Regions from separate parts of the Homo sapiens genome. Here regions 1 and 3 are each linked to region 2. Evidence: fine-mapped expression QTL. A gene starts in region 2. Each other region holds a variant in brackets. All regions are shown on one strand. Distances are from middle to middle.

Evidence for each region.
Region 1: its variant is fine-mapped to the expression of ACVRL1 in whole blood (INTERVAL, PIP above 0.99).
Region 3: its variant is fine-mapped to the expression of ACVRL1 in whole blood (TOPMed, PIP above 0.99).

The regions. Positions count from the first base shown.
Region 1 is chr12:51,844,021-51,852,197 of GRCh38, reverse strand. It overlaps FIGNL2 (fidgetin like 2), which reads left to right and starts at 3,480. Exons shown (of 2, transcript NM_001384995.1): 1 at 3,480-3,658. FIGNL2-DT (FIGNL2 divergent transcript) reads right to left here and starts at 3,975. Exons shown (of 3, transcript NR_135803.1): 1 at 3,635-3,975; 2 at 1,888-1,937. RefSeq lists enhancers at 3,256-4,247, 4,446-5,154, 5,865-6,573, 6,574-7,284. The variant A/T (reference allele first, on the strand shown) is at 4,807.
Region 2 is chr12:51,902,697-51,910,873 of GRCh38, reverse strand. It overlaps ACVRL1 (activin A receptor like type 1), which reads right to left and starts at 3,370. Exons shown (of 10, transcript NM_000020.3): 1 at 3,179-3,370. RefSeq lists an enhancer at 2,701-3,209.
Region 3 is chr12:51,876,555-51,884,731 of GRCh38, reverse strand. No RefSeq gene overlaps it. Among named protein-coding and RNA genes, the nearest start is that of ANKRD33, 7.5 kb to the left of the region's middle. The variant G/A (reference allele first, on the strand shown) is at 4,651.

The sequences.
Region 1 (8,177 bases), 59 kb after region 2:
TAGACACAGCTTGTAGCACAGTGGGAAGGCAAAGCTGGTATACGTTCATGAAGAGTAAGAGTTTTTGGGGTGGTTTGATCAGGGTTGGGGAGGCACTGGGAACTGGGCCTTGATGGGCAAAGAGCAAGAATGAGAAGGGCTAGAGTTTCCATTTGTGGGGACAGCAGCCTGAGTCCCGGGCAAGTGTGGTTGGGGGGAAGCCCAGCTGGGTGTGGTGCCCTCTGGGCACGCACCCCAATCCCCAAGCCAGGACACATTTCCTTCCTTTCCTGCTCATAATGACTCCTGAGTGGCCAGTCCAGAGGACCACAAAGAGGCCTCCCCGCCCTTTCCTCTTCCTCTCTTCCATTTCTTTCTCCCTTCCTCCCCCCACCCCATCCTTCCCCCAACCCGGGGCCCTTTTCTTTCCTTCCTCCTCACCCTACTTGCTCCTCCCGCCCTCTCTCTCTAGCTTTTACTTCCTCCCTCTAACTCTCCCCCCTCCCTCCAAAATCCTTTGAGCTGATTCTCCCTAGACCCACGGAGTTATTTTTCTTCTTAATGTTTTTAGAAAGCCCTTGTTGCAGGTCTCTGGACCAGGAAGGTCACACACTCCCACACTTCTGCTGCACACCCACATGCATGCGCCCGCAGCAGGTGCCTGCACTCAGCCACACAACCAAGCATAGCACCTGTCTCCCCTGGGGGCAGGATGGGGGTGGGATTCTCCACCTTGGGTGTGATACTAGCAAAAGATCTGGGAAAGAATGGAGGGCCCTCTGCAGAAGCCACACATTACCACCATCATTACCACTATTATTATCCAATCCATTGCCAGGCACTTGACCTGCCTGGGGATGATCACAGCCACCTCAGCAGGGGCTCTCAGGGCACAGATCCCTTGACTGGGGACAGCCAGGAGTGAGGTCACCCCAGAGTCCTCAGAGATCAGTCTCTCGGGCCCTGCCCAAGAGGGCAGGAGGTAGAGATGTGATGAACAGAGTATTTGTCAGCCCAGGAGGCTGGATGATGTATTAACAGGACTTTAATGAGCTCTGGGAGGGGGAGCCACACTTCATCGCCCTGAGCACTGGTGCAGGGTGGGAGGTGGAGGGGTGAAATGATCAACCTCACCCCCACCTGCTAACTAAACCTCTTAATATCACCCACAGCAGTCCGCCCATTGGAAACAACTCAGTACTGCCAAGCTGCTGGTCTTGCCCCTGGAGTCCAGCGAAGGCCTTATCCAGCAGGCTGGTGTCTTCCACTATCTCACTAGCAAGGCCTTCCTTAGCTTTAAGCTTGTCCTTCCTTTACTCCCGGACTCCTAGAGGATGAAGGAGAACCGGATCCCCGCTCCAGGGGAGCGCATGATCAATTCCTTCCTTCACACTGAGCGCCTCAGTCCAACCCCACTCCTGTCATCCCCCCTTCCCTGGAGCATGGTGGAGCAGGATCCCCATTGGCAATGCCAGACTTGGCTTCCTGGCACTAATCCTGCTGGCTGAGGCACCCAGCTCATAAGGATATTAGTCTTTCCCTTAGTTCCTGTCTCTGGCTGTCAGGGAACCTGACAGGTAGGGGTGGAAAAAGTGCAGTGGATTCTAGATCCAGCTTTGCTGTGTGACCCCAAGTGTGTCACTTCTCCTCTCTGGGCCTCCAGTGCTCCAACAATAAGGAAATAGCCAAGGAGTTCCTTCCAGCTGGTATCCTGGGATTGTTCCTCCAGCAAGGGTTCCAGTCTCCTAGCATGGTGGTTGTGGCTCCCTTCATCCTGCCTGATTCTGAAGCCAGGGGCTACTCTAGCACTCTGAGCCTTGACACGTCCCTCCTCCTGTGCCAGGGCAGAGCCCTGGGGGTGGGGAGTGGCAAGGAAGAGATAATTCTGGAGGTGGAAAAGACACTGACCTTGGCAAGTTCCAGAACCTGCGTGGGTGCCGGTTGCTTCCAAATGTGGGCTGGAAAAGAAGTGGGAGCTACTGAGGCCCTCCCCTTCTGTTTCCCTGAGTGGCACCTAAAGGAGTGCCCCAGACCTGTCAGACCCCAGAGCCTGCAGGGGAATCTGCATTAGAAGAAGGGAGGGGGTAGTGTTTGGAGTTCTACAGGCTAGTGGGTGAGGGCCAATCTTGCCCTACTGACACTCAGGCTAGGCAGCCACTCAAAAGGGAAACAAGCTCTCAGGAGAGAGGACCCTTAAGCACTGCCCTTGGGTGGAAACAGGATTGCCTTGGGACATCTGGAGGCTCAACAGCAGGAAGGTTCTCTGGACCCTCCATCATCAGCACAGCCCTCCTCCTACCTTCTCCTGGGGCAAAGCCGGTTCCTGGCCTTTATCCCTGATGAAGCCTTGAGTGTGTGTGTGTCGGGCAGAATTCTGTCTACCCTTCGACTGGGAGCTCCAGGAAGACAGGGCTGTGCCTCTTGGACTCTCTTGGGTATCCCTGGTGCACAGTCCAATGTTTGGCACAAAGTTAACACTCAGTATGTATCTATTGAACGGATGTCTTTGGACACTCTCAGTGGACTAGAGGTCTGGGATTCATCCCTCATCTTTTCTTCCTGCCAGTCATCCTGCTTGGCCCAGTGTGACTGCCGCCTTCTGGGCAAGCCCTCCAGTGGAGCCCTCTGTTTAGATCTCACACCCTACACTCCGCTGCCCCCGTCCAGTGCTCGCCCTCCTCCCCCGCAGCCACCCGCTCCCGGAGTGGCATCAGCGCAGAGCCGCGGCCTTGCCTGGCGGTGCGTCCTGCCCTCTGCAGCCCGGGAGGGCAGGCGCAGCAGAGTCCCGCGCGCAGTGGGTTCTCAGCTCACCTGGGGGCGGAGGAAGTGAGCAAGAGTCCTCCAGACTGGGGCCAGGGGGCCAAGGCAGTCCTGGGAAAGGGGGTCTGGGGCGGCCCGCGGACGGGGCGGGCCCAGGCCGGCTGCCTTCCCCTTTGCCCTTCGACCCAGGAAGCCGCCCACATCCAGCGGACACGCTCGACGGGCTGGGCTGCTCAGTCCCGGCCTCGGCCCCGTCCCCATGCCGTCCCCCACCCCTACCCGCCGGCCCGACCCCCACCCCAACCCCAGCTTCCCGCTCCGACGGCCGGGAGAGGCGGGGCGGACGGGTCTGAGAGTGGCGAAGGACACTCTCCACACCGAGGGTCACTTGCTCTTTTTTCCCCTCTGTGGCTAATTTATTTTAGAGCCAGGGGCGGGAGGGGGCGGGGCCAGCCGGGAGGGTGGCAAGGAGGGGCTGGGCGAGCCCAGGGGAGGTGGGGGCGGGGCGGGGGCGAGGTGGGGGAGGGCGGGGAAGAAGCCGGGGGTGGAGGGGCCAGAGAAGGGGCGGGAGCTGGGGGAAGAGAGGGGCACTAGGAGAGGGAGGAGCAGGGAAAGGGGAGGGGAGGGAGGGCCTGCGAGGGAGGGCCCTGGGGGCGGGCGAGGGGAGGCGGGGGTGGGGGTGGGGGTCTTTCCTGCGGGGGGAGCCGGGGCCGCCCCTTGTCCGGCCACCCCCACTGCCCAGTCCCGCTCCCGCCCGCGGCGGCCGCAGCAGCCGCAGCAGCAGCGGCTCCAGGATGGTGAGCGCCACTGCCCCCCAGCCCAGGCCTGTCGCCCCCGGCCCGCGCCGCCGCCCCGGTCCCCGGGCCGGACGCGCCCCCAGGCCGCGCACACTCACCTAGGACCCGGCCGTGATGCCGAGGTACGGGGCCGCGGGCGGGCCGGGATGGGGCGGGGGGAGGTGACCGTTCGGTCAGGGTGTCCGGAGCTTTGTCCGCCGGCCCGGGGCCGGAGAGGGCCGAGAGGGCGGGGGCTGCTAGTCGCGGGGTTCAGCTCGGCGGGGGTCGGAGGGCAGGGCCGGCGAGAGACCCTAGCGGGTACGTGGGAGCCGAGGGTCACTTCTCGGGGGGAGGGGGCGGGCAGAGCAGGGGATAGCCGCCCGGCCGCCGACGGGCACCCGTCTCGCAGCCCCCTCTGGTGCGGGGGCTGCAGCGAAAGCGAGCAGCCGGCTCGGGGGCGTCTGCTGGCCTGGGGGTGGGGAGCCAAGGTTTGCGGGTTCGGGTCCCAGAAGGATCCAGCGTCCGGAGCCCGAGGGCCGGCCCGCAGGCCCCTCCCACTCCGTCAGGTCTTTGTCCAGCGGCCCCTGTGTGTGTGTGTGGGAGGGGTGGGGGCTGGGTTACTGGCCCGGAGATTCCCCAGCATGGTGACGGGGCAGTGACAGGAGGCCGAGGCTACTTAGGGTCCCCGCGCCCCTAACACCCACCCTCTTCATGTCTTCTCCTCTGGCCCGGGAGAACAGAGCCCGCGTCTCAGAGTCAGGGGGTTGTAGGAGGCTGTACTCACCTTCACCCTGGGGCTACAGGCAACAAGGGGGACCCCCGGAGCGCCCAGCTCTCCAGAGAGGGCCCCTCAAACTTCCCCACCGCAAGAGCCCTCTCCTGTTCTACACAGAGATTCGCATGCTAGCAACCCCCCCGCCGCTGCAGAGGGTCCTTCGCAGATTGCTGAGCACCCTGTAGGTGATCAGCAAATGCTGGTGCCCTTCCCCAGCCCCGCTGGTCCCCCTGCCCCCGCCAGAGGAGGAGGCCTGGGAAGGGGTCTGCGCGGGGCAGAGAGCGCGCGGCCTGGACCCTGCGCCCAGCGGCGGCCCGGAGCGCAGGGGTGGGTGGACGGGTGGGTGGGCTGTTAAAGGGACGGTCACTAAATCAGGATTAGGCCGTAGGGCTGTCAGGCTGCCGGCCCTGTCTCCATGGATACCTAATTTGGAGGAGAATAGAGGACTGAAGAATGTTTGTGTTGTCCGCACGGGCTGTGGCGGCGGAGCGGTCTCCTGCTTTCCGCCCGGCAGCG[A/T]GGAGTGGGGACCCGGTTCCAGCCCAACTCTGGGCTTACGGCGCAGGTGGGCTTCCCGGTTCCTGGGCCGTGGGGCCTCCCCTGTGGAGCCGCCCAGTCTCTGGAGTGGGCTGGGCCCGCAGATGCCACGGTGCGAAACCCTCTGACCCTGCAGAGGGAGTCCCAGACCCTCCCGGAGCCTACCCCGAAATCCCATAGCATCCTCCTAAAGCCTCCCCGAGCCTCTCAGTCCGGAACCGACGCCATTCCCCGCTGTGCCTGAGCCCCCAAGGACGGGCGCGCCGGGCTGCCCGGTGCTGTGGTGCCGCCGCCACCCAGCTGTGGGACGCGGGTACCGGGCGGCCGCGCGAGCTGCGGGCAGGGGGCGGGGCGGGACTTCCTGGGGTGGGCGAGGAAAGGGGCGGGGCTTGCTGGGGTGGCTGGGCTGGACGGGTGACAGGCCTCGTAAATCCCCTTTCCCATGTTTAACACCATTTCATTTCTTTCCACTTGATTCCATTGGCATCCAAGGCAGACGGGAGCGACCCTCGTGTCCTCGCTGTAATATCTTCTGGGCGAAGCCCTTTTGGGCCAAAGGGAATTAGGCTGTGTGGGGCAGAGGAGTTGCTCCTGGGGAGGCCTAGAGGACCCGCATTCCTCGGGGGGATTCCTGTTGCCCCCACCCCCGCCCCAGAAGAAGAAACAGAAGGGGCTGAGAGACACAGAAATGAGTTTGGCTTCGGAGGCCCTGCCCGATTCTCTGGCCGTGGTATGGCTGAGGGCTGGGCTGAGGATCCCGTAACTGTCAATTCCAGTACCAGCCTGGGCGAAGGCTGGGGAGAGCCACCCAGACTGAGTGTGGCGTCGCAGAGCCCTTTCCTGCCTTTCTTCTGCTCACCCATGGCCACAGCTTTTTATGGATCAGGACTCCCCTCCCTGCCCTGCCTGGGCCGCAGCTTTATTGCTGAGATCTAGGGCTCTCTCCACGCAATTTCACGCCTCTCTGCCTTTGCTCCCGCTGTTCCTCCAGCCAAATGCCTTCCTCATTGTCCCTGTCTTTCCACAACCTCCTTATTCTTCAGGGCCCAACTCGGATGCGCACCTCCTCCGCATCACCTCCCCAGCCCCGAGCTTCTGTCACTTGCTCCTCCCTCCGTGGCCTGCACCTGTGCTCCCTTCCGCCTTTGTGGCGGGGTCCACTCAGGGCTTTGACTGAAATGGAGCATGTACTCCCTGGCCCTGCCCCCAGTGGGCTTGCCACAGGGCTTGACACCTTGTGGGTGCTCCATAAATATTGGTTGGCTGAATAAAAGGGGTTTTGTAAGGGCCTTTAGCCAGGCAGTCTGCATAGCATGGAATCTGGCCACCTTCAGGTAAACAGCTCTGTGCTCTTGGGTGGTGGAGACCCCTGGGTGGGGCTCCTCCTCTCCCTTTCCCTTATTTGCCTCCTTCTCCTCCCCATGACCCTACCCCACCCCCCCAAGTCCGGGGAGGACTTTGCCCCTTCCCTTCCCCACAGACCAGCATTCTTTCCCTGCCATTATCATTCTGTTAAACAGAGAGGCCAGTCAGGATCCATATGGATCACATTAACAATTGCTTATTATCTGGGCCAGGACTCCCCCGACTCTCCCCCCAAGCTCCGACTGCTGCCATTGCTGGACCCTTAGGAGCCCTGCCTTCCCCTCCCCCTGCCGTCGGTCAGCCAGGGAGGGCAAGAGACAGGCTGGTCTCCCTCACCTTCCCTGTGCCTTCTAGCAGAACTTTGCCTCTCCTGGACTTGGCGGTTATCGACTCCTTTACCCGATTTAATGAAAACCAGGTTCCTGGAAGGAGCATGGCTCTGCAAAGCTCCAGGGCTGCAGCAGGGAGATGTGGACTCCAGGCCCCAGTGCCCCTGTGCTCTGCAGCCCTGAGACCCCCTTCAGGGGACAGAGACTGTGGGGGGGGGGCGGTGAGCCACAAGAGGTCAAGTATGGGGTGCTGGCATCTGCTACCTTAGCCTTGGGCTGGTCCTGCCCCCTTTTGGGAGCTGGCTGTCTGGTGAGGGAGATCAGGGCAGAGGGACCCTGCCAGGCTCTGTGGTGTTGGGCTCCCAGCCTTTCCCTGCAGTCAAAGAAGCAAGAAATCTGTTAGAGCTTCCCAGAGCAGCCACTGAATTGGCCTTGAAGGATGGGGAGTGTACTTCACGTTTAAACCCATATATAACCCAGGAATACTAGGGCATGGAAGGAGCCTCCAAGATTACCCATTCTGGGTATCCATAACTTTTTTTGATTTACAGAGCCCTTGGAGACACTGATGAAAGCCATCCCCAGAAAAATGCACTTCCGTTAATTGACACCAGACTTTGCATTCTGCTTTAGAGGATTCTTGGATCCCCTGAAGCCCATGGGGACCTTATGTCAAGAAACCCTCACCCCAGTCCATCCCTCTCTGATGTGCTGAGGACAGAGTCATGCCTGCAGCCTGGGTTTCCTGACCTCCCCACTCAGTGCTCACTCCATGGCCATATTACTTGCAGTAGGACCGCCAGAACCAAGCGACCAGGGGTATGAGATTGAGGCACTAGGCCAGCCTTTAAGTGGGAAGAGTTCACACTGGCTGGGTCAGGGTCTGGGCTGGTCATCTCATCTCTGACTATGTGGCTTGGAGAGAGGCTGTCCAGCTTTTTTTTTAGGGTCCACTTGTCTCCAGGAACAAGTGGCAATTGCTCTTCTCCGAGCAGTTTCATAAGCATCTTGATGAATCATAGTTAACGCTTCCACACACTTGTTAAACACTCTGTATCTCATCTGTGAGGTGAGAAAATAGAGTGAAGAATGGTGTCCACCTCCTAAGCAGGATATTGTGAGGATGAAAGGAGTCAGAGCTGGGAGACCTGAGTCCTAGTCTTGAATGACTCTAGGTGCAGGTGCTCAGGGCTGTGGTTACTGTTGAGGCCAGCATTTCCCCAGTTTGCTTAGCCAAGGAAAGGGGACTGCAGTGCGAACCCCCTGAGTGCCTTCTGTCTTTTCCTTTAGTACCGAGGTATGGACAGTGTCAGCCTTTGGAATATTCATCTTCAGGGTTGGAGGCAGAGTGGGGGTTCTTAGTGAGTGGGAGAGCTGGGCAGTGGCCATGGCCTGCCTCTGTAGCCCCAACCCCATTTTTGATGACCAGTTATGACCCCTACCCTAGAGACCAAGCTTTGTGCTTCAGCAACCCCTTGCTGCTAATCAGATGTAACTCCGGACAAGTGACTTCATCTGTTTGGGTTTCAATTTCATCATTTCTAAAATGGGGATAAGAACCTCATATGATGGTGATGTGGCCCTGGTTTCAAATAGTCTGCCCCTTTGATTCTGAAGCCTACCTTGGGGACCCGCTTAGTGACTCGGGGCCCAGGGACT
Region 2 (8,177 bases):
GGCCCAGGCTGGGGGAGGAAACAGAGCCCTGGGCTGCTGCAGCTGTGTCCCCAGCCTCTGCCTGACCTCCTGCCTCTTGCCCCTCCCGCAGCCAGTGAGGACTCTGGCTAGCACTGTGCGGCAGGACTGACGGTGGGATGGGATGGAGAGAGCACCCTAGAGGAGCTGAATCTGCCCACTGGGGTACTAGCAGGAAGCCATCCTTGGCAGCCTTTGCTAGCCCAGAAAGCTGCAAAGGAGAGGGTTTGAGGTGGAAAGGAAAAAGTGGCTAACAATAAGGCTAAAATCCGGCATTCCTCTAGGATCCTCTGTCCGTACCTCTACTTCTCTGGCCGTGCCCCAGTCCACCCTCCTTCTACTTTATCACGCATCAGAATCACCTGAAGTGCTCACTGAGAAAAGCATATTCACTGGTTTCACCCTCACTCCAGACTCTGATTCAGTCCTGGAATCAGCAAGAAACATGCATTTTTTAAAAGTTCCCCAGGGAGTTCTGATCAGTTTGTGTGGGCACAACGCTAAGTCTGGTTCCTCTGCTTTCATTTTGCTGTACAGGGCCCTGCTGGGTGAGTGGGAGTGGGATGCAGAGGGAGGGGACACTCACTCCCACCCAGGATACTCCCCATCTACTACAGAAGGGACAGCCAAGGGTAAACACCAAAGCTGGGACGTGGTGACACTGTGGAGCGAGGCTGTCTGCATCTGCAGAACCCATCTATGGTCTAATCCTGGGAATGTGATGGAGTAAAATTGGGACTGTCCAATTTTTAACTGGACCCAGTGTGAGATCAAGTACAGGAGGATGCTGAGTCCCGACCAGTCCAAACTCAGAGCTGACTCTGTACGATTTACCCTGAAATCTGACTGTAGCACAGACAGACTCCTGGGGCCTGGCAGGATCCTTTCACTTCTAAGCAAAACTTTGTGAAAGATCTCCTGCTGACAGAAGCATCACTATTGTTGGCCAGAAATTACAGACGTTAAACTAATTTCAAACGTTAGCTAAACACTATGAAATACTTAATAATAACAGTTAACCTTCTCTGAGTACTAATTATGTGCTAAGTACTGAACTTGAATGGTTTATCTGATTTAATCATCACAACAGTCCAACGGGGGAAAGTGAGGCTCAGAGATGTTCAGTTTCTTGTCCATAGTCACTGAGCGTGTCTTAATAAACTTAAATTGCTGATAATAAATCATTCCTTGGTCATTGTTATTCCTCCAGTTGTTTGGGGTTAGATGAGTCCCTCAAAGGAAGAAAAAGACATGGGTCTCGGTGGACGTGTACAAATTGCCCACTACTGTTGTTATTAACGGGTGCCCTACTCAGATTTGTTTAAATGAAGACAGCGTTTTTGTTTGTTTTTAATTTTTTTTGAGACAGGGTCTTGCTCAGTCGCCCAGGCTGGAGTGCAGTGGTGCAATCATAGCTCACTGTAGCCTTGAACTCCTGGGCTCAAGTGATCCTCCCACCTCAGCCTCCCAAGTCCCAAGGGACTACAGGGGTGCAGCACCATGCCCAGTTTTATTTTTAGTAGAGATAGGGTCTCACTATGTTGACCCAGGCAACAAAGGTGGTGTTGCTGCCCAGAAATCATCTGTTTGCCATAGGCTTAGTCAAAGTCTGAGCCTCAGGTGGGGAGAGCCAGAGTAGTGGTATGCCCGAAAGGTGCTTATCAATGTTTTTCTCCCTAGCACACCTGAAGGATTGATAAAACCTACTCCCATCAACGGCAGTGGCTCAGCACAGCAGTGATCTTCACAGGGCTGGAGAAGCGCCATATCAAGCACAACCTTCTGGACTCACTCTGCACTTCAGTAGGCCTTACCCCAACAGCAGAGGAGCAGACCCAGCTGTTCATATTGGGTTGCCCTTACGATTCATCCATGTGATTTATTAGCCCTTCACAGCGGGGTGATGCAGTGGAACATCCAGGTGATGCCTGGATTTTCAGGTCTCAGGCAGACCATGGAGGCAGCACAGTGTAGCACAGAGGTTAGGGTGTGGGCTCTGGAGCATGGAGACCTGGGTTCAAATCCTGCCTTTGCCACTTAGAGGTATGAAATTTGAGACGTTACTTAAACTTTCTGAGGCTTAGGCTTCCCATCATATGTAAAGTGGGAATAATAATAGTGTTATCTCATAGGTAAAATGTAGTACAATTATTTAGCAGAGTATAAGTAGTACACAGTAAGCACTGAAATGTTATCAAGACCCCAACCATGCCATTCACCCCACCATCCAAGGAGTTTTGGACAAGTCCCATATTCATGTCTGTTTCCTTTTCTGTAGGAAGGGGATAGTAACCCCTCTTCCACTAGGTTGCGGCCAGGATTACATGAGAAAAAATATATATATCTAAGTGTCTACATAGTTAGTACTCAATCAATGGTAGCTATTTCTAACAAACCAATGAAATGGGGGGACAGGTGAGAGGACAGGTATTAGGACAGACCCTGACTCAGCCAGAAGCTGGCCATACATAGAGAGAGTGAGAGCAACTGTCCATTATGCCCCTGTCCTTGGAGAAGGAAAGAGGAGCTGGGGCAGCCAGCCCAGCCATGGGTTTCACAGCACTGGCCTCCATGGAAAAATCTGGGGTCCCAGCCTGGGGGGAGACTGGGATCCCCTTTGGCCTGGATCCTGAAGGAAGGTCGTGGCAAGGAGGTGACTGACCATGCGCGCCTAGGGTGAGACTCCTAGGTTGGAGTGATAGTGTCAGATTCCTCAAGCAACAGCTGGAAGGACTGATCTGGGAAAGGTGAGCTCTGCTGGGAGGCTCAACAGCTGTGGAAGTAGGCATTCACTCCAGGTCCACCCAGCGGCCTGGAGGACGTGTGATCCCTTCTATGTGAGTAGAGCAAGACAGGAATCCCACTGCCCATTTTATGAAGAGGGTAGGAGAACAGAGAAGTGAAGTCACTGACCCCAGGTCACCCGACTAGAACCAAGTTTCTGATTTCCAGTCCAGTCTCGTCCATTCCCCTCCAAGTCTCAGGTAGGGTCATGGGAGCTGTGCGTGGTCAGCCAGGAGCAGCTTGCCTTTCTAATGAGCTGGGACTGAGCCTCCCGCGACCACTCTGCGGTGACTCTGGGGTCCGCCCGAAGGAAGGGCCCACTGAAGCGGGGGTCAGGCCGCCCGCCACCCGGTCCCGTCCGCGGACCTCGACTCACCTCTGGGCCCGCTCTGCGGGTGGCGGGGCGCTAGCCTTCGGCGGACCGGGGCCACCTCCCCTCCACCGCGCGGCCGCAGTTGCACCGCCAGCGCTGGACGGCGGGCTGGGGTCCGGGCGCGGCCCCGGACCGGGCTGGAGCCGGGGAGGGGCTCGCTCGGCGCAGCTGGCGCGGCAGCCTCCCGGGACTGGGATGGGGGCTGGAGCAAAAATGTTTCTTATTCCAGCGTCTTCCTGCCTGGCCCAGCTCCACCACTCCCTCCTAATAAACCGTTTCCTTATTGCCCAGCTCGCCGACTGGCCGCCGCTCGCCCCTCGCTGGGGCTGCAGGACCGGGACCCACCCCCGCGCCGCTCCCAGCCCCTCAGGGCGGCCTCCCCTCCCAGCCGCCCGCAGCTCCCGGGTCGCTGGCCCGCACCCGGGCCGGGCCTCCCACATCCGCCTCCCCGAGGGGGCGGGCCTTGGACTCAGGCCGTGGGGGTCCTGTGGGGGTCCCATAGGGGTCCCGTGGGGTCCGGACCCACAGCCGTGGGAGACAGAGCCGAGACTGTAGGCAACGTCTGGCGGCCGGAGTAGTGGGTGGGGGTAGAGGGGGATCGGCTGGCAGCAGCGGAGGGGCCGCCTGGAATCGGGGCGCCGGGAAGGGGCCACCGAGGAAGGGACAGGCGGGGGTGGGACGGGGAGGGACACTACCTATCCTTACCCCACCCTCAGCCCGGGGGTCCTCGGTCTAGGAGGCTTGCAGCAATGAGGGCAGAGTTTGGGGCTAGCAAAATCCAGATGCGTTTTGACTCCGCCCTCGGGAACTCCCGACTTGGCCCAAATCCTTCAGTCCCCTCCCTCGGGCCCCTTCGTCCCCCATTTGTCCCCTCCTGTCTTCAGCAGCCTCTCCCGATCCGCACTCAGCACAGGGGTATACAGGCCCAGAGGACGGCCTTGGGTTAGCCCTGAGGATGGTTTGAGCCCTTCCTGGCCGTTGTGCAGCTGGGTGACAAAGACACCCCCGCCCCGCCAGGGACAGTCAGGATGGAGGGACACGCTGGGAGCAGCCTTGGACCTTCCCCTTCCAGGCAGGGCCCCCACCCCAGCAAATGGAGCTTTAGATAGAGGTGGGGAATGGAGCCTCCCTGGAACTCTGCTGACACAAGGCAGCTGGGGAGGGAAGCAGAATGGCTTCATACCGGCAGGGGAGGGGGACACAGACTCTTCCTGATGCTCCTGCACAGGCTGGGAGCACTGACCTCACTGCCCTGCTTTGCTCCAACCATCTAAGTACCTGCAGGACTCTGGTCTTAGTCCTAGCCTCCTGGTTATCCACAGAGACTCTGAAGTCAAACTACCTACTAGGAATGCAGGCTGGTTGTGTTACCGTAGGCTAGTGACACCTCTCCATGCTTCAGTCCCCCATCTGCTAAATAGGCATAGTAAACCGTGCCAGCCTCATAGGGTGGTTGTGAGAATAGACGGAAATGATGCTTATCTCAGCTCATAGCAAAGATGCTGGCTGGCTGAGCCTGACTCAGAGGAGGCCCTCAATGAAGGCGTTCGTTAATTAAATGAATAAATGAAAAGGCTGGGGAGGGGGTGGCCTCAGAGACACTTGGAAAGACGTGGGTATTAGAAGCAGGAGTAGACCTCTAAGGTGTCTTACTCTAATATGGGGATTCTACAAGATGAGCCAGGGACCCCTCCTCCTGCCCCGCCCCACCTTTTGACAGGAATAGAGGCTGGGGGAGATAATGGCTAAAAGCTCAGACAGGCATCAATTATTGACTGACCTCACTTCCTCTGCTGAAACCCTCCCCATCCCCCACCCCACAGCTGCTTCACAAGTTGTGAGCGTTGTGAATTCCCAGAACCCTGACACACCCAAATTTCAGTGTCAGGACAGAACTGTGTCCTGCAGCCAATAGGAAGTACTATGGGATTACGATATCTGCTCTTTCAGATTATAGCGGCCACTTGGGCCCTCTACGAGCTGGAGAACTGGGAGCCTGGCCGCGGGTCTGTCTTTCACACTCTCTCTCCCTGCTCCGCTATGGCTTCTGGTCAACCTTTTCCTCCCCCAACCCCTGGATCTCTGTCCTGAGAAGCGAGAGTCGGGGCTTCCCAAAGGAAGCCTTTAGTCTGAGAGGCACACTGAGCACAGAAACTTCGAGATGGACAAAAGCTGAGAGTCACTTCTAACAGTCAGTGGGGGATGGAAGACTATCTGGACCAGCGTTCGTGAAACAGATAAAAATAGAGTACATTTTGGGAGCTGGAAGAGAGGACCCAGGGGGGGCTGGAGTCTGTTCATCAGTGCTGGAATCTTCCCCATCTCCCCAGAGCACTGAGCCCTCTGGCCCCTGACTGGTGCTCTTTGGGGCTCTTGTGAACCCCATGCCTTCCAAAGCACACAGAGAACCTGGGGGAGGTGTCAGAGTTGGAGATCCAGAGTTGGAGAAAGCCCTGGAGAGTCATCCCAATGAGAAAAGGGAAAAGGAATTACAGACTGTGTCCAAGTCTACAAGAATTAATTACTCAGAGGGACCAGCTGTTCCCCATATTCAGTGAGGACAGAACAAGAGGAAACAGGCCCAAAGGACAAAGATTTAGATTTAGATACTCAGAAGGATTTCCCAACACTGCAGGAAGCAGAGGCCTGGAGATTCTGTGTGGGGTGAAACCTCAAGCAGATTCTCATCTGTGGAAGGTGGGTGACATGGAGTCTGTCAGGAAGGCAGGGCAATGGACACCTTCACCTTTCAGGACCAGCTATGAGTATTAAGTTCAAGCATCATTCTTTTTTTTTTGAGATGGAGTCTCACAGTGTCGCCCAGGCTGGAGTGCAGTTGCGTGATCTCAGGTCTGCCTCCCAGGTTCAAGTGATTCTCCTGTCTCAGTCTCCCAAGTAGCTGGGATTACAGATGCGTGCCTCCACGCCTGGCTAATGTTTGTATTTTTAGTAGAGACGGGGTTTCACCATGTTGTACAGGCTGGTCTCGAACTCCTGACCTCAGCTGATCCACCCACTCAGCCTCCCAAAGTGCTGAGATTACAGGCATAAGCCACCCCACCCAGACTCAAACATCACTCTTGATACTAGTGCGGGGCTGGCTTCATGGGAGTGTGACCTGTGCAGATGCACAGGGCCCCATGCTTGGTTTAATGCGCTGTCATTGCCATCTTAAAATTCTTAATGATATATTTTTTTTCCATTTATTTAGGTCTCTTTTATTTATCAGTGTTCTTGTAGTTTTCAGCATTTAACTCCTTTATGTGTTTTGTTACACTTATACTTTTTAAAAGCAATTATAAACAGGATATGCTATTTTTAATTTTTGTGTCCATTTGTTCATTAAATTATATAGAAATATAATCGATTTTTACATATTGATCTTGTATACTGTGACCTTGCTGAACTCACTTATTCAAGGGGGTGAGGTATTTGGGTTTTCTACCCCTCATGGATTCTTTGGGATTTTCTACATCGACAGTCATCTGCATCTGCAAATAGAGACAGTATTATTTCTTACCTTCCAATATGCATATCTTTTATTTCCTTTTCTTACCTGACTGCACTAGCTAAAACTTCTAGCATTATGTTGAATAAGAGTGGTCAAAACAGAACAGCCATCCTTGCCTTGTTTCTCTTAGGAGAACACACTCAATCTATTAATCATAATGTTAGCCGTAAGTTTCTTGTAGTAGCCACTCTATATCAGATTGAGAAAGTTCCCCCATTCCTCTTTTGTGTGTGTGTGTGTATTCTTATCATGGATGGCTATTGAATTTTGTCAAATGCCTTTTCTGCATCCACTGATACGAATTGTGTAATTTCTCTTTGTTAGTCTGTTAATACGGTAGATTATGTTGACTGATTTTCTCTTCTTTCTTTTTCTTTTTTTTTTTTTTTGAAACAGAGTTTTGCTCTTGTTGCCCAGGCTGGAGTACAATGGCGTGATCTCGGCTCACTGCAATATCTGCCTCCTGGGTTCAAGCGATTCTCCTGCCTCAGCCTCCCTAGTAGCTAGGATTACAGGTGCCTGTCACCACACCTGGCTAATTTTGTATTTTTAGTAGAGAAGGGGTTTCTCCATGTTGGTCAGTCTGGTCTTGAACTCCCGACCTCAGGTGATCCACCCGCCTCGGCCTCCCAAAGTGCTGGGATTAGAGGCGTGAGCCACCGTGCCCAGCCTATGTTGACTGATTTTCTAATAGTGAACCAGGCCTTACATCCCTGGAATAAACCCACTTGGTTATAATGTGTACTTCTTCATTATATATAGCTCAATTTTATTTGCTAATATAGTAATTTGCTGCATAATGAAGTTTCAGTCAAAAATATTCCACACATACAATGATGGTCGCATAAGATTATAAATGGAGCCAAAAAATTCCTGTTGCCTACTGACGTCGTAGTAACGCATCGCATTACTCATGTGTTTGTGCTGATGCTGGTATAAACAAACCCACTGCGCTGCTAGCCATAGAAACGTATACAGCATGTACAGCTATGTTCAATAAACAATACTTGATGATAAATGACAATGCTACTGGTTTATGTATTTAATATCCTATACTTTTTATTATTATATTTTAGAGTGTGCATCTTCTATTTTTTAAAAAAGTTAACTTTAAAGCAGCCTCAAGCAAGTCCTTCAGGAAGTATTCCAGAAGGCATTGTTATTACAGGAGACAGCAGTTCCACACATTACTGCCCCTGAAGACCTACCAGTGGGACAGGATGTGGAGGTGGAAGACAGTGATAATGATGATCCTGACCCTGTGTAAGCCTAGGCTAATGTGTGTGTTTAATAAAAAAAAAAAATTAAGTACAAAAATGAAATTAAAAGTTTTAAACATAGAAAAAAACTTATAGAAGCCGGGCGCGGTGGCTCATGCCTGTAATCCCAGCACTTTGGGAGGCTGAGGTGGGCAGATCACCTAAGGTCAGGAGCCTGAGACCAGCCAGGCCAACAGGGTGAAACCCCATCTCTACCAAAAACACAAAAAAT
Region 3 (8,177 bases), 26 kb after region 2:
GAGGGAAAGTTGTTTACTAAAACCAGGAGCAAGGGAACGGAAGAGAACCAGGAAGCTAAACTTTAAAATGGATAATCAAAGAATAAGAGAGCTGAACATACTGACATACTGATTCTTTGAAGAGAAACTTGGGGTTCACTATAATTAACACTGTCTTGATGAAAGATGTAGAGTGCACCACTTTTTTTCTTTCTTTCTTCCCTCTTTCTTCCCTCTTTCTTCCTGCTTATAGAATTCCATAGTGTGCATCCACCTCATTTAGCCTATCCCTTCTTCCTGCAATAGATGCTTAGGTTGCCTCCAACTTCCTGTCACTATAAATAATGCCAAAGTGAACACCCTCATACGTATCTAGTTGTGGACCCATCGGGGTCTCTGAGATCACTAGATCACAGGGCACATACACACTTACTGAGTGGATACTCAGGTTGCACTCTGTTTCACCATGTGTGCCTACCAGCAGTGCATAAGAGTCTCCCTACGTCTTAGACAACACATGTCATTATTCAGCCTTCTAATGTTTGTCAATCTGATAGAACTATAAAGCGATATTGCTATTTTACATTGAATTTTTCTGATTATCAACAAGGTGAGCATCTCTCCACATGCCCTGCTGGCCAATCTTGTTTTCCCTCCTGTGAATTGACTGTTCATGGCCTTTGCTCAGTATTCTATTGAATTTTCCTATCCTTTTCTTATTGATTTTTCAGGAATTCTTTTAATATTCTAGATAATAAAGCCATTGTCAGATGGGTTATAGATGAGGCAACTGTACTATATAAACCCTTCTGTTAGCTTTATCTATGGTGACCTTCATTGAAATAGCTCCTGAATTTTGATATGGTTAAATTCACCAGAATTTCTCCTTATACTTTGTGTTCAGGGTCTTGTTTACTAAGAATTTTCTACTCCAAGATCACAAAGATCTTCATTTCTTTTATTAATCTTGCAGTTTTATTTTTAATATTTAGTCTTTAATTCATCTGGAATTCACTTTTATAATATTGAAGAAATAATCTGTTATAGACTAAATTGTGTCTCCCTCAACCAACCCCAATTCATATATTGAAGCCCTGACACCAAAAATGACTGTGTTTGGAGACAGGGCCTTTAAGGAGGTAATTAAGGTTAAATGAAGTTATTAGGGCAGGATAGGGCCCTAATCCAATAGAACTGTTGTCCTTATAAGAAGAGGAAGAGACACCAGAACTCTCTCTCTCTGTGCCTGCACAAGAAAAGGACACGTGAGGACACAGTCAGAAGGTACCATCTACAAGCCAAGGAGAGAGGCCTCTCTGGAGACCAATCCTGCTGACACCTTGATTTTGGATTTCTAGCTTCCAGAACTGTGAGAAAATACATTTCTGTTGTGTAACCCATCCAGCCTGTGTATTTTGTTAAAGCAACCTGAACAGACTAATAAAGGATCCAACCTTATTTTTTTCTCCATTTAGCAAGATAACTCCATCTATTAAACAATTCTCTCTCCCTTGATTTGTGGTGTCGTTTTTATCACATGTAAACGTTGAGTTCTCTTTTATGTTTTATGCTATGTTTCAGTTATCTTATAGCATCTTATGAGGGCATTCCTGTGCCAATGCTACACTGATTTTATTACTCTAGCCTTGTAGTCTCTCTGACTACCTGATAGAGTAAGTTCTCCATATCTGATTTTCTTTTTTGAAGTTGATTTTTATTCTCTCATGTAAAATTGCATATAAGATTGTTGGGTTCTTTTAAAATTTTTGCTACAGTTTTGATAGGCATTTATTTGAATTTATAGAGTAATTTGGGGAAAATTGACTGCCTCATAATGTTAGATCTTCTCTCCTCCCTGAACATGGGATACGCTATGATCTGAGTGTTTGTTTCCCCCAGAATTCATATGTTGAAATCCTAAGCCCCCAAGGTGATGGTATTAGAAGGTGAGACTTTTTAGGGGGTAGTTAGTGCCTTTATAAAAAAAGACCCCAGAGAGCTGCCTCACCGCTTCCACCATATGAGGACTGATATGGTTAGACTGTGTCCCCCAACTAAATCTCATCTTGAATTATAGTTCCCGTAATTCCCACCTGTCATGGGAGGGATCCAGTGGGAGGTAATTGAATCATAGGGGCGATTACTCCCATGCTATTTTGTGATAGTGAGTTCTCACAAGATCTGATGGGGTTTTTGTTGTTGTTGTTGTTTGAGACGGAGTTTTGCTCCTGTCGCCCAGGCTGGAGTGCAATGGCGCGATCTCAGCTCACTGCAAACTCCGCCTCCTGGGTTCAAGCGATTCTCCTGCCTTCCAAGTAGCTGGGATTACAAGCGTGCGCCACCACGCCTGGCTAATTTTTTTTGTATTATTAGTATAGACAGGATTTCACCACATTGGCCAGGCTGGTCCTGAACTCCTGACCTCAGGTGATCTGCCTGCCTTGGCCTCCCAAAGTGCCAGGATTACAGGCATGAGCTACCACGCCCAGCGATCTGATGGTTTTATAAGGGGCTTTTCCCCTTTTGAATGGCACTTCTCCTTCCTGCTGCCCTGTGAAAAAGGTTATGATTGCTTCCCCTTCTGCCATGATTGTAAGTTTCCTGAGGCCTCCCCAACCCTGCGGAACTGTGAGTCAATCCCACCAAAGTGCTGGGAATACAGGCGTGAGCCACTGCGCCTGGCCTCAATCTTGATAACACTTTACAGTTTAACATGATTTCCCTGACATAGCCCCGGCCTCTCCTCATCCAAGGCAGCTATAATCCTAGTCTCTTGTCCATTATTCTTTTGCTCTCCTTTATATATTGTTTTACTACCTCTTCATGTATTCTTCAGAGTATTTATATTATGTATATATACATATACAATTTTAGCTATTTTATTTAGAAGCATATAATGCTTTATGTAGTCATTTGCTGTCCACTTTTATCACTTAATATCATATTGCTAAGATTCATTCACATTGTTGTGTTACTATGGTCTACTCATTTTGATTGCTGTATAATACTCTATTGCGTTGATGTACCACAGTTATTATGCACTGTCTTTTTTTTTTTTTTTTTTTTGAGACGGAGTTCTGCTCTTGTTGTCCAGGCTGGAGTGCAATGGCGCGATCTCGGCTCACCACAACCTCTGCCTCCCAGGTTCAAGCAATTCTCCTGCCTCAGCCTCCCGAGTAGCTGGGAATACAGGCATGCGCCACCATGCCCAGCTAATTTTGTATTTTAATAGAGACGGTGTTTCACCATGTTGGTCAGGCTGGTCTCGAACTCCCGATCTCAGGTGATCCACCCATCTTGGCCTCCCAAAGTGCTGGGATTACAGGCATGAGCCACCACACCCAGCCTATGCACTGTCTTATTAACGGATATTTGGGATGTGTCCAAGTTTCTGCTATTATAAATTCTGCCACTATGAACACACAGGCATGGTTGTTTATGGAAAAATATTCCTTGATGGCCAGGTGTGGTGGTTCACACCTGTAATTCCAGCACTTTGGGAGGCTGAGGCAGGCGGATCACCTGAGGTCAGAAGTTCAAGATAAGCCTGGCCAAGATGATGAAACCCCGTCTCTACTAAAAATACCAAATTAGCTGGGCGTGGTGGCACATGCCTGTAATCCCAGCTACTCAGGAGGCTGAGGCAGGAGTATCGCTTGAACTCCAGAGGCGGAGGTTGCAGTGAGCCGAGATGGAGCCACTGCACTCCAGCCTGGGTGACAGGAGCAAAACTCCGTCTCGAAAAAAAAAAGTATTCCTTGAGTCCAGGCACAGTGGCTCACACCTGTCATCTCAGAACTTTGGGAGGCTAAAGCTGGCAGATTGCTTGAGCCCAGTAGTTTGAGACCAGACTGGGCAACATGGCCAAGCCCTGTCTCTACTAAAAATGAAAAAATTAGCTGGGCTCAGTGGCACATACCTGTAGTGCCAGCTACTTGGGAGGCTGAGGTGGGAGGATCACCCAAGCCTGGGAGGTTGAGGCTATAGTAAGCCAAGATTGCATGACTGCACTACAGCCTGGGCGCTGGATTGAGACTTTGTCTTAAAAAAAAAAAAAAAAAGAAAGAAAGAAAGAAAAAAAGTATTCTTGAGTGTATACCTACAAGTGGAATTGCTCTTATTTTCTAATTTTTTGAGATATGTGTGTAGCTAATTAATTTTCATCCTTTCTTCAAGTCTTTGAATATAAGCCTTATAGACCTTAAATTTCCCATTGAATACTACTTTAGTTGTTCCATTTTTATTTCCTCTTTGATCAATGAATTATTTAGAAATGTCTTTAATAACTTTCAAACATATGGAAATTATTTTTGTTACTTATTTCTAGCACTGTGGTCAAATCTTTAAAATCAATCGAGACTTGCTTTATAATCTAGTATATGATCAGATTTTGCCAAATACGTCATGTGTGCTTTAAAAGACTGTGTATTTTTCAGTTGTTCGGTGCCATGATGTGTGGAAAGTATTTCACTGGGTTCTGGCTTTCATTATCTTGTTGAGAGTTCAGTGTGTCTCCTTTAAAGATTGTCTTTTCTTTTTTTTTAAATTTAATTATTTTTTTTTGAGACAGAGTTTCACTCTTGTTTCCCAGGCTGGAGTATAATGGCACAATCTCGGCTCACTGCAACCTCCACCTCCCGGATTCAAGCGATTCTCCTGCCTCAGCCTCCC[G/A]AGTAGCTGGGATTACAGGCGCCCACCACCACGCCTGGCTAATTTTTTGGATTTTTAGTAGAGACGGAGTTTCACCATGTTGGCCAGGCTGGTCTCGAACTCCTGGCCTCAGGTGATCTGCCCGCCTCGGCCTCCCAAAGTGCTGGGATTACAGGCGTGAGCCACTGCGCCCGGCCTTCTTTTCTTAAGTCTTCAAGGTCTTCTTCTTGTCTTTGGTGTTCTTAAGTTTTACTTCAATGCTTAGGTATGGATTTCTTATGATTTACCTTTTTTTTTTTTTTTTTTTTTTGAGACAGGGTCTCACTCTATCAGGTGGTATCTCACTCTATCAGGTGATCCTTTCACCTCAGCCTCCCAAGTAGCTGAGACTACAGGCACCTGCCACTATGCCCAGCTAATTTTTTTTTTCTGTTTTATAAAAAGGAGGTCTCACTATGTTGCCCAGGCTGGTCTTGAGCTCCTGGGCTCCAGTGATCCTCTTGCCTTGGCCTCCCAAACTGCTGGGATTACAGGTATGAGCCACCACGCCCAGCCTAGAGATTTTTTTTCCCCCTGTGAGCTATTTATTATTTTCCCTAGAAAATGATGTTAGAAATTTCTTGAGGCTGAGGACTAAGGTATCTTCCTTCAGAGAATATGAAGTTTTTTTGTTTTGTTTTGTTTTGTTTTGTTTTTTCCTGCCAGGCATGTAGAGGTACTAACCAGTCCTGAACCACTTTAAACTAAATACCTAACTTGGATAGTTTTGGGTCATCCAGGGCTGCAAATAAGCGCAAAGATCAGCTGGTGGTTACAACTCAGAGATACAGCCTTGCTATCAGCTCAGCACTGAGGCAGCTTTCATTAAAGTCCTCTGGATGTGACAGCGGGATAGATTTATTTCAGGTTCAATCTTACATGAACGATGAATCCTTTGGAGTCATAGCTTTTTAGAGAATCTCCTATTAGATTCCTCACCTTGGTTCTATCAAAAATAGAGACTGTGAAATTTGAAGTTCAAGTTTGCCTAATTCGACAAATATCCTCACACTAAAGAAGGATTCCTTTGTCTGTTTCTCTGAGTTCCTGCCTTCCCTTAGACTTTAACCTAATACTTTCTTGCTATCTGGCCAGCACATCTACACTTTTAAAATAATTTGCGTATTTCAACCAGCATTTTTACATGACTTATGCTGAAAAATCAGTCCAGAATCCAGCCAGTCATATTATTGGAAATAGAATTTCCTCTATTCCTAATTAATTGCAAAAAAGCCCAATAGGAGACAGATGTGGTGGCTCACGGCTGTAATCCCAACACTCTCGGAGGCTGAGGCAGGCAGATCACTTGAGGCCAGGAGTTAGAGACCAACCTGGGCAACATGGCAAAACCCTGTCTCTATTAAAAATACCAAAAAAAAAAAAAAAAATTAGCCAGGCATGGTAGCCTGTGCCTGTAGTCCCAGCTACTCAGTAGGCTGAAATGTTGGCTTGAGCCTGGAAGATGGAGGTTGCAGTGAGCTGAGATTACACCACTGCACTCCAGCCTGGGCAACAGAGCAAGACCCCATCTCAAAATTAAATAAATAAATAAATAAATAAATAAATAAATAAATAAATAAAATAAAAAGCCCAATAGGAAATGGGCAAATAGCATGGTCAATTAATTCATAAAAGAAATACAAATGGCCAGGCCAGGCGCGGTGGCTCACACCTGTAATCCCAGCACTTTGGGAGGTGGAGGTGGGCAGATCACCTGAGGCTGGGAGTTTGAGACCAGCCTGACCAACATGGAGAAACCCTATCCCCAATAAAAATACAAAATTAGTCAGGTGTGCTGGTGCATGCCTGTAATCCCAGCTACTCGGGAGGCTGAGGCAGGAGAATCACTTGAACCCGGGAGGCGGAGGTGAGGTTGCAGTGAGCTGAGATCGTGCCATTGCACTCCAGCCTGGGCAACAAGAGCGAAACTCTGTCTCGAAAAAAAAAAAAAAAAAAAGAAAAGAAATACAAATGTCCAATAAACATATGAAAAGATGCTTAACCTCACAAATAGGCAGGAAAAGGCAAATTAAAATAACAATGAAATATTGCTTTTGGCCCATCAGTTTGGTAAAAATTAAACATTAATAATATGAAGTGCTTACACTGTGGGGAGAATGTAAATTAGTGAAGTATTTTTGGAAAGCATTTTGACAGTATCTATCAAAATAACAAATGTACATACACATTGACCCAGAAATTCTGCTTTTAGAAATCTTTTTCAAAACAGTGCTTGCATATGTGAGCAAAGATAGACTGAGTAGGCCTGGCATAGTGGTTCATGCCTGTAATGCTAGCACTTTGGGAGGCTAAGGCAGGAGGATTGCTTGAGGCCAGGAGTTCAAGACCAGCCTGGGCAACACACGGAGACCCTGTCTCTGCAAAATAAATAAATACAAATAAATAATAAAATAAAATTTAAAAAGACATACTGAATATACCTTGAAGCATTGTTTGTAACAGTAAAAAAAATTAGAAACAATTTAAATGTTCATCAGTAGAGGAAAGGTTAGAGGCACCTGTAGATTATGCCTCCATTCAATGCCTCCATTTATCTTCAAGAAGAAGATAAATATCTACATGGTTTGCCCTGAAAATCTCTCTGAGCCACCTTGTTCATGGTTGGAAAAAAAGCCAAATGCAATGACACACACACATACAAACACACAGGCACACAGTATACTGTATACATATATATACACACACATATACACACACACTTGAGGCCAGGAGTTCAAGACCAGCCTGGGCAACATAGTGAGACCCCGTCTCTACAATATACATATGCGTGTGTGTGTGTGAGAGAGAGAGAGAGAGTCTGGCTATTTACGTGTTTTTTGTAAATGCATAGAAAGAGCTGGAATGGTTTTTTTTTTTTTTGAGACAGAGTCTTGCTCTGTCTTTCAGGCTGGAGTGCAGTGGTACAATCATGGCTCACTGCAGCCTTGACCTCCCCGGGATCAAGCAATCCTCTCACTTCAGCTTCCTGAGTAGCTGGGACTACGGGCATGCGCCAGCACGCCCAGCTAATTTTTGTATTTTTTGTAGAGACGGGGTCTTGCTGTGTTGCCCAGGCTGGTAACTCCTGGGCTCAAGTGATCCACCCGCCTTGGCCTTCTAAAGTGCTGGGATTACAGGCATGAGCCACCGTGTCCGGCCAGAATGGTCATTCTTAACATTGGCGGCACAATGTAATCACTTAAGGACTTTTTAGAAATAGTGATGCCTGGAACCCACTCTGGAGATTCTGAGACTATTGGTCTGGGGCACAACCTGGGCAACAGGATTTTAAAAATCTCTTCATGTGATTCTAATGTACAGCCCAGATGGGGAACCTCTAGACAAAATGATGCTCTTTAAAACATGGTTAACTTAAAGAGGAGGAATAAGAGAAGGGTGAAGAAAAAGGTTTTTTGTTTGTTTGTTTGTTTGTTTTGAGATGGAGTCTCGCTCTGTTGCCCAGGCTGGAGTGCAGTGGCGCGATCTCCACTCACTGCAAGCTCCGCCTC